4 separate regions of the Homo sapiens genome follow, and all the other regions are reported to be linked to region 1. The links are microRNA targets in miRTarBase. Many come from high-throughput screens and were not tested one by one. Region 1 holds a microRNA gene; each other region holds the end of a gene's coding sequence.

Evidence for each region. The annotated mature microRNA hsa-miR-3664-5p reads AACUCUGUCUUCACUCAUGAGU and lies in region 1 at 2,227-2,248, opposite strand. An mRNA with a match to its seed (bases 2 to 7 or 8) in the 3' UTR can be bound and repressed. Matches are read on the target gene's strand: a 7mer-m8 pairs with bases 2 to 8, a 7mer-A1 pairs with bases 2 to 7 and ends in A, and an 8mer does both.
Region 2: the mRNA of SAP30L is a reported target of hsa-miR-3664-5p. Seed matches in the 3' UTR shown: 7mer-A1 at 999-1,005.
Region 3: the mRNA of KATNAL1 is a reported target of hsa-miR-3664-5p. Seed matches in the 3' UTR shown: 7mer-m8 at 2,925-2,931.
Region 4: miRTarBase lists KBTBD6 as a target of hsa-miR-3664-5p. Seed matches in the 3' UTR shown: 7mer-m8 at 1,750-1,756.

Annotation. Positions count from the first base shown.
Region 1 is chr11:70,870,101-70,873,262 of GRCh38, forward strand. It overlaps MIR3664 (microRNA 3664), which reads right to left and starts at 2,268; the gene lies at 2,170-2,268. The region is part of intron 11 of SHANK2 (SH3 and multiple ankyrin repeat domains 2); the gene reads right to left.
Region 2 is chr5:154,455,423-154,458,584 of GRCh38, reverse strand. SAP30L (SAP30 like) reads right to left here. Exons shown (of 4, transcript NM_024632.6): 4 at 1-2,685. The coding sequence ends at 2,557. Among named protein-coding and RNA genes, the nearest start is that of SAP30L, 11 kb to the right of the region's middle.
Region 3 is chr13:30,205,624-30,208,760 of GRCh38, reverse strand. It overlaps KATNAL1 (katanin catalytic subunit A1 like 1), which reads left to right. Exons shown (of 11, transcript NM_032116.5): 11 at 23-3,137. The coding sequence ends at 221. Among named protein-coding and RNA genes, the nearest start is that of LINC00385, 53 kb to the right of the region's middle.
Region 4 is chr13:41,127,950-41,131,111 of GRCh38, forward strand. It overlaps KBTBD6 (kelch repeat and BTB domain containing 6), which reads right to left. Exons shown (of 1, transcript NM_152903.5): 1 at 1-3,162. The coding sequence ends at 2,538. Among named protein-coding and RNA genes, the nearest start is that of KBTBD6, 3.3 kb to the right of the region's middle.

The DNA.
Region 1 (3,162 bases):
TTAGTGTCCTTATAAAGAGAGTGTGGCCCAGGGCACTATGGAAGAGGTTTGAGGATGAGCACAGCAGCAGAATCTGAGTGCTGGAGGCTCACCCAGGCAGAGTGTGCTCCACTTCGTTCCAGGGGACTGAGAGAAATGAACCCGGGGTGAGACCCAGAGCCGTCCCCTCCTGCAGTCCATCTGGGCCAAAATGAGAGCCCAACCAGTGGGGAGGGAGGGGCAGATTCAGGAAATAGAAAAAGTGGAAGGGGCTGGTTCTGGACAGATGGGAAAAGGGCAGGTGAGCGCCAGGAAAGATCTAGGAAGGTTTTTGGGTTTTCAGTTCCTGGGCCATAACTGAGATGGGGTGCCCAGGAGGAAGGGCCAGCTGGCCAGGAAAGATGGGGTATGTTCACTGGAGCTCCTGTAACCACAGCCTGGGTGACTGAAACCACAGGGATGAATTGTCTCATGGTTCTGGAGGTTGGAAGTCTGAGGTCAAGGTGTTGGCAGTGGGGGGGTTCACACTGGGGACTGCAGGGAGACTCTGTTCCAGGCCTGTCTCTCCAGCTCCCAGTGGCCTGTAGGCAATCTTTGGCATTCCTTGACTGACAGAAGCATCACCCAGAGCTCTGCCTTCATCTTTGTGTGAGGTTTGCTCCGAGTGCATGGCTGTGGCCACATTTCATTCATTCATTCATTCATTTATTTATTTGAGATGGAGTCTTGCTGTGTCGCCCAGGCTGGAGTGCAGTGGCACGATCTCGGCTCACTGCAGCCTCCGCCCACACAGATTCAAGTGATTCTCCTGCCTCAGCCACCCAAGTAGCTGGGACTACAGGCACCCGCCACCACGCCCGGCTAATCTTTGTATTTTTAGTAGAGACGGGGTTTCACCATGTTGGCCAGGCTGGTCTCGAACTCCTGACTTCAGGTGATCCATCCGCCTCAGCCTCCCAAAGTGCTGGGATTATAAGCATGAGCCACTGCACCCGGTCCCATTTCCTCTTTTTATAAGAATATCAGTCCTACTGGATTAGGGCCCAATCTAATGACCTCATTTTCAGCTGATGACTTCTGTAAAGACCCTACCTCTAAACAAGGTCACACTCTGAGATCCTCAGGGTGATACTTCAACATATGCATTTGCAGGGACACACTTCAAAGGGGAGTCAGGGGTCTGGGCTCGCCTGGTGGCAGGCTCTGCAGGAGATGAGTCTGAGGGTCCAAGAGGAGGTCCAGGGAGCGCTCTGCAAGCCACCAGCCCCGAAGATCACTGGCACCATAGGAGCAGGGCAGGATGGGCGGGGGTGGGGAGCAGAGAGCAGAGCAAGGGCAACCACAGAACCTGGGGCCACACCACCTTCTGAGATGAGCCACATAGCCTGGCACTGAGCCTCCTTCACGTGCTGAGGCCACATCTGTGTGCCATGGAGCCTGTGAGCCCCTGGAGGGAGAGGCTGTGCCTGGGACCCTGCGGATTCCCCAACACATTTGCTGAACAAGCAGGGCAGGGAGAGAAAGGAAAGTGAGGTCGAGACAAATATTATAAATATGACCATATCCCTGATGGAGAAGAAAGTCAAGAAAGAGTTCATGTTGAAAGGCAACACGGGCCAGACACACCTGGTACTCAGGGGCCCTGCAGGGTTTTACAGCAAACTGTGGCCACATGGGGGCTGGGAGGGGACAGCCAGGAAAGAGGCACAGTCCCCATCTGAATTTGACTGAGAGACTCTTTGAAGCCGTCTGAGATTTCCATATACGATTTCTATTAATATTTAAGGCAAGACGCATCCCATCCTCCATAACAACACCGTCTTGAAAGAAGCCTTTGAACTACTTGAAAGGTAAACCCAGCATTATTCTTGGATTAAGAACTCTTGTTCATTCAACAAATACAGCCCCACGACGACATCCCTGAACACCAGAGCCAGAGGTGCCTTGGCATGTGCACGCTGCCTGCTTCTGCAGCAGTAGGATGATGCGTGTGTGGCCTGTTACGTCACACCGCCAGTGGGTCTGGGCAGTGTCCCATTGCCAATTGCGGGAGGAGTCCTTCAGGGCACGGATGAATAATCATGCTAAGTAGGATAAATAAAAACTATAAATAGCCTCAAATCAGTTCAGGTCAAGTACTACTGCCAACGAGCTACGGAGAAGGCATTCGCTTTTCAGATCTTTTTGCAGATCCACATTGAAGGTAGGGAACTCTGTCTTTACTCCTGAGAGCTCGTGTTGGAAGGTACTCATGAGTGAAGACAGAGTTCCCTACCTTCAAGTTTACAGAGGAGACGGGGTGCACAGTGGAAAGGAGGGGAAAAAAACCCCACACGCATGAAGAGGAAAGACAAGTAGGATGCAGGCTTGGAGGTGGAGGCTCGGCGGGACGGGGAGAAAAAAGGACAAGACCCTTCCCTAGAAGCGCTTGGTGGACACAGTGGGTGCAAACGACCAAGTGGCTGGATGGAGGGAAGAGAGACCCTCAGATGGAGGGAATAGGGGGCCCCCATACAGAGGGGCCCCCCACAGACCAGAGTCAGGGGCACACAGGTCCGTGAGCTACGTGGAATGAGAGATGGGTCCCTGGACCACATTACTTCCGGCTCCCTGGTGTATCTCCTCCACGTTCTGGCCACCTGCGGGTCCCTGTTTTCCTCCACACTGACCACTTGAAAACTGATGGGTGGCAATTTTCACCCCTCATTGTCCTAAGGGTCGTGGGGGCTGCTTTGCTTGGTGCTGGAGTCTGGGGCCACAGTGGAACATGGCATTGATTGCTAAGAGGAAGGGACCCCACGATGCCCTGTAGAGCCCAGCTCCTCGGGGCAGGAGGAGCACATATCCACTGTCTGCCCTCTCCCCACACTCATGACCTCCACCTCCCCCAGCCCCAAACATTACAAAAGCTAAAGACATCCTGGGCACCTGTGAGAAAGGAAGAGCGGAGGTAGTTCCCACGTCCATCCTGGTGCCTCTGCCTCCCGGGTGGCGACCCTCAGGAAGGTGAAACCTGCAGCTTGGGCCCTGCAGTTTATAGAATGATATGTTTGTGGTTCCCTAAAACAAAGAGCCGTTGCCACAGCAACCGTGGCATCCCAGCACTCAGAGGCTATTCTCAGACACTAAACAATGAGTTTTGCCTTTCAAATGCATTTGATACAATTTGCTTGGAAGGCATTA
Region 2 (3,162 bases), not on the chromosome of region 1:
AATGCTGCTACGTCACAGGTGGAGAGAAGCGCAAGAGTCCTTGATGGATGGTATAAAAATGGAGCAGCCAAGATGAACATTGCTTTCCCCACACCCCACTGCTCCCTGAAGCCAGACCCCGTTGCTCTGGAGGGCCTGGCCACTTCTCACAGGCAGGAGTCCCTTGCCCACAGATAGAGCCACCAGAAACTGCAGAAGAGGCTAAGGCGAGTGGTTTAGTGGTTTGATGAAAGAACAGATTTCTGGACATAAGAAAAACATAGGTTCAAATAGCTTTGTCTTTTCTCTCACCTGACCTGTTGAAAGGTCAGATTGAAAAGGTTGAAAAGATGCCCACAACCTCCACTTTCCACAAGCACCTCTCCTTAGAGGAAAGACAAGGGACCCAAGTACACACACAGCATCTGGCTGAAGGTAAAACATTTCCCCAGGTTTCGCTTTGGAATAAAGATTCTTTCAGACACAATTGAACAGATGGATCCTACCATCATATATTCTTGTGCAGAAGCTATTGTCTCTCTCAACTGGGAAAACAGATTTGCTGCTAAAGAAATAGTGATGTGACCTACACGCCCACAATTCTGGTTTACGTATCAGAAAAATACACTTTTTTACTCATTAAGATATGGACATTTCCATGGAGCAAGTTAACAATGCCTTAACCTGCAGGCCCCATCTGCCCCTCAGCCTTCTTGATGCCTGTATCAACATCCTTCAGCTGTAAGCAGGGAGAGAATCTCTAAACACATAGTGAATGTGAATGACTGAAAACACTCACAGAGCACTGGACATGCCATCCACAGCCAGGAGGCATACCAAAATAGGATGCCCTCACAGTCCAGAGTATATTCTATATACAACCATTTATATATATTTAATTTAAAAGGCTGCAATCTGCTAGACATGCATTTTGAACACAGGCGAAAGCTTTGCTGCAATGGAACATACTGCATTTTAGTGAGCGTGGTGACCCTGTCCCCATTCCACAGAAAGCGTGGTACTCTGCTCCACAGAACTGAGACCTTTGGACACTCCGCCGCCCTGCTCAGTAGGGGGTTTAGTCCTGACTTCTCTGTGATGGTGCTCAGATTAAGTCATCTGTGAAACTCTCTGCCAGGCCAGGCTGTCCATTGTTCTTATTATTTAAGGCTTAAGAAATTAACTCAGAATTGAAACTGAGTAGGAAAATGACACCTTTGACCATATGTCAAGATGGTCATAAATTAGAATCCAAATTCTTTTCTTTTCTTTCTCCCACCCTCCTACCCCATACCCTCTGCCCTCCATTACACAGATTAAAGAATTTTGCAAAAGCACATTTTTGGATATAAAGCTTTGTTTTCACAGGATACTTTGGCTCTGATATAATTAGATTGAGGAGTTCAACGTTTTGAACAACAAAAAAATTAGGTAATTTTCAAAAATTATTTTAGCAATCTTTCTCCCTAAGAGGGAGGCAAATTGTTCACAAAAATGAGCATCAGATGGAATTGACCTTTGTTGCCCAAACTCATGATTTGCTGATGACCAGAGCCCAGGGAGTCAAGGCCAGCCAGACTTTCAATCCTAAGCTGAACTTCTGGGCAGGAATCACATGGCCCCTGGCAGCTTGCATGGTGGTTGTGAACTTAGGATGAAAACTTCTAAAAATACTTGCCCCAACCTACTAAATATGTCAGTGTGTCAATGCATTTATTACCAAGAAGCTTGGCTGAAGTCATAATATCTAACTGCACCCCAAAGAGTGAAGCATAGTGGGGTGCATAAGGGACCGTATCTTCTGTGAGGGTCTCTATATCAGTGTTTCTGGAACCTCAACGAATAGTTTTGCACATGCAACTGTCCTGAAATCCTTATCTGATCAGAAACTTCCTTGTTGGTGCATCAGGATTTCCTCCACATTCTAGCAGTTAAGTGGTGAGCAACAGAAATGGCAGAGGTCTCAGTCATGAGAGGTGTGAAGCGGATGTTACAAGGCTGGCACTATTAGTGACAGCTCAATTAGCCAATACCTACTGATTGAGTGCCTACTGTGTACAAGGCACAGGGTGAGTGAGGGGGACCAGTGTCAAACTGATCTGCTGATAAATGACAAAGCTTGCAACAAAGCGGGCGGGATATCTATGTCGCCAGCGGGCAGCATGCAAGTCCAGATGTGGGTCTGCTCATGCACTTCCATGGCCAATTGCACCTTGCTGCTATTCCAAGCTACAGCTCACACGTGGCAGCCTGGTGGATAAGGTGATTACCAAAATATTTCTTATCCCACATTTCCAGTAGAATTGATTTAATGCTTTGTTGAATGCTGAAATACATAGTTTTTAATTCTTTTAATGATCCTGATTTTTTTAGTCCAGAGTTATCGTAAAAGAAAGTCTTTCTATACACATGCTGAATCATGAGAATATAATCCTCCTGACCAAAAAGATTTACAGTATTCATCATTCAAACTTTTTTATTTACAATAATATTTAACAGTCTTTATGGGCTTAAATGTAGTAGATATCACCTGTGCATCAAGCATTACACTTCATTCCTTTAAGATGTGCTTCATCCTCACTCAAGCTGCTTGCCACCCTCCGATTTCTGGTCCAGTCTACTCTTGTTACTCTTCACCATGTAGATGAAGTAGGCAAGGGTCTCTTTTTCATTCACAGGTATGTTCCTGAAGTGTCGACTCACAGTCTATGTGGGGGGAAAATACCAAAGTTCCTTAAACCATGCACAAATCACACCGCAAATTCTACATTGTACAAAGAAGCGAATGGAGTTGTTTGCATGCTGTGGCGGGAATGACAAATGCTGAAGAACTTCCTGCCATGTGCGGAACTCAGAGTGCCCTTTGCCCTTCCTCCCCAGGGATGTAGGTGGTTTAATTTCCAGGATCCAAAAGTGGCTTTTTAACCTACAACTCTTCCAAGGTGCAGTTCTATTTCAGTGGCAGCCAACCACCTGTCATGGCATGATTTCACAGTCATACTCATGGAGGAGAGACTGGGACTGCTCTGGTTGGCCAGCTGCTACCAAACCTCTCAGGCCTTGAAAGTGGGAAGAAATGTGTCTTTAAAAAATTGTGGGGCAGGCGTGGTGGCTCACACCTATAATCCCAATGCTTTGGGAGGTTAAGGTGGGAGGATTAGTTGAGGCCAGGAGTTCGAGACC
Region 3 (3,137 bases), not on the chromosome of region 1:
ACTGATTTTGGTATATTTTTAGGGATGCCTCTTTAATGGCAATGAGACGGCGTATCAATGGCTTAAGTCCAGAAGAAATCCGTGCACTTTCTAAAGAGGAACTTCAGATGCCTGTTACCAAAGGAGACTTTGAATTGGCCCTAAAGAAAATTGCTAAGTCTGTCTCTGCTGCAGACTTGGAGAAGTATGAAAAATGGATGGTTGAATTTGGATCTGCTTGAATTTCTGTCAGCTCTTTAATTTCTGGTATTTTTGTTGATAAAATACGAAGAAATTCCTGCAATTTTTAAAAAACAAGTTTGGAATTTTTTTCAGTGGAGTGGTTTTCGCTTAAAGGAAAAAAAAATCTAAAACTGCGAAGAATACTAAATGTAGTTGAGAAATAATTGATGGCGAGAGTTTGCTAGTCTCCCTCCCCGGCTTTGTGCTGGTATTCCACGTATTCCTGCATTAATATTGCACACCCAAACCAGTCTATCAGGGAGGCTGAAGCAAGGGCGCAGTGTGATATTTTAGGAATACAGAAGATTTAGAAATACCCCTATTTCTCATTTGCAGTTTTTTTTTCCAATTCTGTGCTCTGTCAACATGAGGGACCTATCTATGTATGTTGACTTTTAACATCAAAATTGGATTTGTGTCAAACATTCATTGTTAAGAGAAGAATGACAGTATATTTTGGAGGAAATAATGAATTTACTAATTAAACCTTTAGAATTTATGACTTACTGTTAGAGTCTGTCATATGGTTAGAATTTTTACTTCCGCTACCCCTGCCATTTCTTCTGCTAGCTACTTCATAATATCTTGAGCTTTACTGAGGAATATTCTCACGCTCTGTGGTATTTGAATCATTTTGCCAGGTCATTTCTCTGTCTTTAGTATTTTTTGCTGGTGCTTCTTACATTTAATATGGAAAGGTGGGAAGAATATTACTGCATTAGATGTAATTCTTCATTCTAGACTTCCAAGTTTGTTTTCACTTTTTTGTGTGTGCGTGAAGGAGTCTGTGTCACCCAGGCTGTGTAGTGCAGTGGTTGATCTTGGCTCACTGCAACCTCTGCCTCCTAGATTCAAGCAATTCTCCTGTCTCAGCCTCCCAAGTAGCTGGGATTACAGGTGCGCACCACCATGCCTGGCTGTGTTTTCACTTTTCTTTCAACATGTTCAACCAGATATATAGCCATTATTTTTCTCAGCTCCAGCATTGTTTGATTTTTCTTGAGTTTGATTTTAGTATTTGAGATAAATACTTTTACATTCTAAACAAGTCCACTCTCTGTGGCTAACGCAAAACAAATGAAATCTTTATTGTTTTCCAAACAGCTAGTTTAACAAAACAGCATCATACATAGTGAATGATGTTCATTGGAAAATTCTAAAATTTGTCCTTGTCTAGGTTGAGAACTTTTACACACACTAAGATAAAGATAGAAATCTGACATGCTCACTCAATTCAGCAGGAATTACACATTAGAAAGAAGCCAGAAAAATAAATGGCATATATCCAATCACAAGTAAATGATCCTGGCGTTAGTTTTTATGATTACATGTGTCTCATTAGGCAATTTATGCTTTAATGGTCAAGCTTTTAAAAATTTGTATTTGATAACATCCTGAATTCTCAGTTTCGAATAGTGCCTACTGGTTTAAAACTAAAAATAATACAGCTTTTTGGACATTTAACCAAGATACTAAGAAGGTTTTTTTTAAAAAAAGAGATTTGATTATTTTTCCCTGCTAAAAACTGTAAATGCCTTATGTTCTTTTCAGATAACTTAAGTCTGACCTAAACTCCAGTATTCATCTGATGCTGTAAATTGCCCTTCTTTCTGAGACACAGATTATAAGATGCCAGATCATAAGACATCATGATTTTATTGTAATTGAATTCTTCCTAAAAATTGAGAGGTTTCCTTTTATTAACTTTTAAAATAAAGAAATAAGTAGTTTCATTACGATTATTTTGCAAACTATTGCCAGTCAGAAATGCACTTTTTTTTTCCCTGAAGTTTTAGGAGCCGTCACTAAAACATTAGTCTTGTGATTGTTAAAACTTGTTTGTAATGGGTTGGTGCAAAAGTAATTGTGGTTTTTCCATTACTTTCAATGGCAAAAACCGCAATTACTTTTGCACCAGCCTAACAATAGTTGATTAGTTAGACCTTTTCTGGGTTTTGTATTGATTATCTTGGTGTGCATTTAATTATTTTTCTGAATTCTTCATGGATAATGACATAGTAATTGTGATTCTTTTAATACCAGTTAAGCAGTATTTGGCAACTTAAACTTCCTGGGAGCCTAACTTTACTATGTTAAGTGAGTCAGGTGTGCTTTTTATTTCCCTTGTTTCTCATTTTGCCCTGTCAGTGGATGGTAGATGCTTTGTATATCTTAAATCCCTTAAAGGATCTTAAAGACATCCCTCAGGTGTTCTATTTAACTTTTATTTTATTTTATTTTATTTATTTATTTATTTTGAGACTGAGTCTTGCTCTGTCGCCCAGGCTGGAGTGCAGTGGCATGATCTCGGCTCACTGCAACTTCTGCCTCCCAGGTTCAAGCCATTCTCCTGCCTCGGCCTCCTGAGTAGCTGGGATTACAGTTGCCGCCACACCCGGCTTATTTTTTTGTATTTTTAGTAGAGGCAGAGTTTCACCATGTTGGCCAGGCTAGTCTCGAACTCCTGACCTCAGATGATCCGCCCACATTGGCCTCCCAAAGTGCTGGGATTACAGGTGTGATCCACCGCACCTGGCCCTAACTTTTAATATACAACACACACACACACACACACACACACACACACACACACACACACACACACACACACACTATTTCAGAAGACAGTGTGTTGCCTTACCCAGAATGAGTGCTAGGATTACAGGCGTGAGACAGACACACATACACACACATACACACACACAGAGTCTTTATTGCAGAAGACAGTGTGTTGCCTTATAGGCGTGAGACACACACACACACACACACACACACACACACACACACAGTCTTTATTGCAGAAGACAGTGTGTTGCCTTACCAGAATGAGTGCTTGGATTACAGGCGTGAGCCACTGTGCCCAGCCCTAACTTTTAATGTACATCACACACACACTCACACTCACATACACACAC
Region 4 (3,162 bases), not on the chromosome of region 1:
TAGCCTTAGGGCACTAAAGCACATTTGCCCTTTTGAAGCACATACTAGTATGGCACATTTTATTTCACTAAAAGTGATGTTAAACGTGAATGTCTTGTAGACTATTTAAAGAGCCAGTCAAATGGCTAAAAAAACCATTGTTTTTTTGTTATAACTCTTTGTGTCTCCCTCTTTCCATTCTCATCTTATGATATTTCACTCAAAAATTTAGTTACCCACCCCAAAACACATTTCTCTCCCTTCTGCCAGGGTGTAAGAAATGTTAGCATTCTGTCACTAGAAAATAAACACTGAAGAGGAATTAGCATGTTAATGAACAAAGATTAAGGAAGGTAATACTAACAGGATAAAGGAAAATGTAGACCATAAGCATCTGGTCATTCATCATGTACATGTATCATGTCAACCATTATATATTAAATCTTCAAGAGGTAAGTACTTCTGTTTTAGTGTGTTTAACAATGTCAGTTTCGTGGGATTTAGTCTCTGTTCCAGGACCTTCTCTTACATTATGGTAACAGAAAAACAAAGACTGGAGCATGGTTTACAGAGAAATACAAAACACATACAAACATCATAATAAAATAGCCATTTATATCACTATTAGAGAAATATTTTAGAGAAAACATACTTTCACTAGTGGCCTCAAATGCCATCATCCACTTATGTTCTTTAACTATCAACTTTGTTTTTCTAAGAGATGGGATCTCGTTCTGTTGCCAAAGCTGGAGTGCTGAGACATGATCATAGCTGCAGTGAGCTATGATTATAGCTGCAGATGATAGCTGCAGCCCCGAACTCCTAGACTCAAGTGATCCTACATTCAAGTGATCCTCCCAAGTAACTGGGACTCAGACTTGGGCCACCATGCCCAGACATATTTTTTATTTTTGTAGAGATGGGGTTTTGCTATGTTGCCCAGGCTGGTCTCAAACTCCTGGGCTGAAGCAATCCTCCCACCTCAGCCCCGAGTTGCTAGGATTACAGGCATGAGCCACTACACCCAGCAACTGTCAACTTGTAATACAAAAATACCTTCAAGCTGATAATCAAGAACATTTAGTGACTTTAAAAAGCTGACAGAATATTTCCATGCTACACAAAACAGTTCTATACACAGCTTTACAGTTTTAAAGTTCTTTGCTGGCACTTGACTTTATAGTTAACACAATGACTACTGATATCAACGAAATACTGTTTTTAGCTTATATATATTTTCAAAATCAGTATTACCTCACAAAACAGTAAAGAAATATCACTTCTGCTGAAGAATCCTCTAAGATGAACACCAAAACTGTACAGCTAAAACATATTGAGAATCATGTAAATGTTTAAGGCAATAGATAAAAATTTATACAATCCAGTGAAATTTATACATGTCCAGCAGAAAAAAAAGGATTATTCCTGATTAAATGAAGCATGTATCAGGTTTAGATCAACAATACAAACCTACAAAGCAAGTTACTTCTTTTTTAAGGTTTTTTGATGATTTGGTGACACAACTAGAATATAACCTTTTAGATGAAAATTGGTGACTTTGCAAATACACATTCTAAATTCCAAAATTAAAACGAAACTTCTTTTCAAACAGTAGAATCCTGGTTTGTTGTTTTTACTGTCAATGAGCTTATAGCTATTCTCTGTATTATTATAAATGAAGTCACCACTCAGTCACCCTAATACACATATGGTTTTTTTTCTTTTTTTTTTTTCCTTTTTTTTTTTTTTTTTTTTTTGAGACGGAGTCTCACTCTGTCATCCAGGCTGGAGTGCAGTGGCCCAGTCTCGGCTCTCTGCAGCCTCTGACTCCCGGGTTTCAGCAATTCTCCTGCCTCAGCCTCCTGGGTAGCTGGGATTACAGGCGCATGCCACCACGCCCAGCTAATTTTTGTATTTTTAGTAGAGACGGGGTTTCACCATGTTGGCCAGGCTGGTCTTGAACTGACCTCAGGTGATCCACCTGCCTCGGCCTCCCAAAGTGCTAGGATTACAGGCGTGAGCCACCGCGCCCAGCCTGCATTTTTTTCTTCATAGAAGAAAACAAAAGTAAAACTTCCCAAATTATGTTTAACTTATAACACATTTTGTAAAGACCCCTTAGGTTAACCATTTTGGAAGTCTACATTGTTCTGAAGAAAAAGATATGCTTTCAAAACACTATCTAGCAATTCCTAATCATTTTTCTATTATAAAAATTAAAATTCAAAAGTTATTGCCACAGTGCTTGTGGCAGTAAACAGAATGTAAAATGTATCAAAAGACTAAATTAGTGTCATGAAACATAAACATACTAAATAATCAAATAAATACTGGACCCTTAGCACAGAAAATTATTAAAAGGTTGATTTGAGTGTTAAAATTTGTAACATTAAATTACCTTCGTATTTCAAACATTACTTTTTCTAAACCAAACCAGAAGTTAATCAACTTTTCCTCTCCTTTAGGAACAAAAAGGATATTTAAGATATTTTCCAAAACAGTAAAAACAACTTAGTGTTTCAATCTAGTTACAACAAACCCTGTTGATCCTGTGCATTTCACTGAGGCGCTACACGCACCCAAAAATCATCATCAGAAAGAGAACTTGAACTTCCTGACTCAGAGTCTGGCTCACTGAATCCACCTAAGTCCCATTCAGTGCTAGACTCACTTGGTATTTCTTCTTCTTCAGTGAGGAAACTCTGACCAGGTTCAAGGCAGGAAGGATAAACACGAGCAGAGAGGCAAAAAAAGTTAGAATCAAACTGCAAGAGGCCTAATGTGGTACCTATATTAATCCATTGGTCTCCCCTAATATCATATTCATACACAGTCACCCGGTTCTTTTTCCACTGTGGGGTGCGAGAGGTGATGAGCAACAATTTTTGGCCATGCTTGATAATTCTGTAGTTGTTGGTCTCTGAGACCAAGGGAATATTATTCATTTGCCTCCATTCTGCCCTAACTGGGTTGTAGACCTTCATGACTGGGATATCACAGATACAATAGATCTCCTCATTGAAGACGCAGGCTTCCTGAAAGTCATTGCGCTTCAGAGAAACGCACTTCAGCCACATATTGTGGCTAGGATCATAACAGAACATGCGCTTACTGTTGAGAGCATAGAGATAGTCTCGAATTACCATTAGGTCAAAGGATAAAAAAGAATGGGGCAGTGGAGCC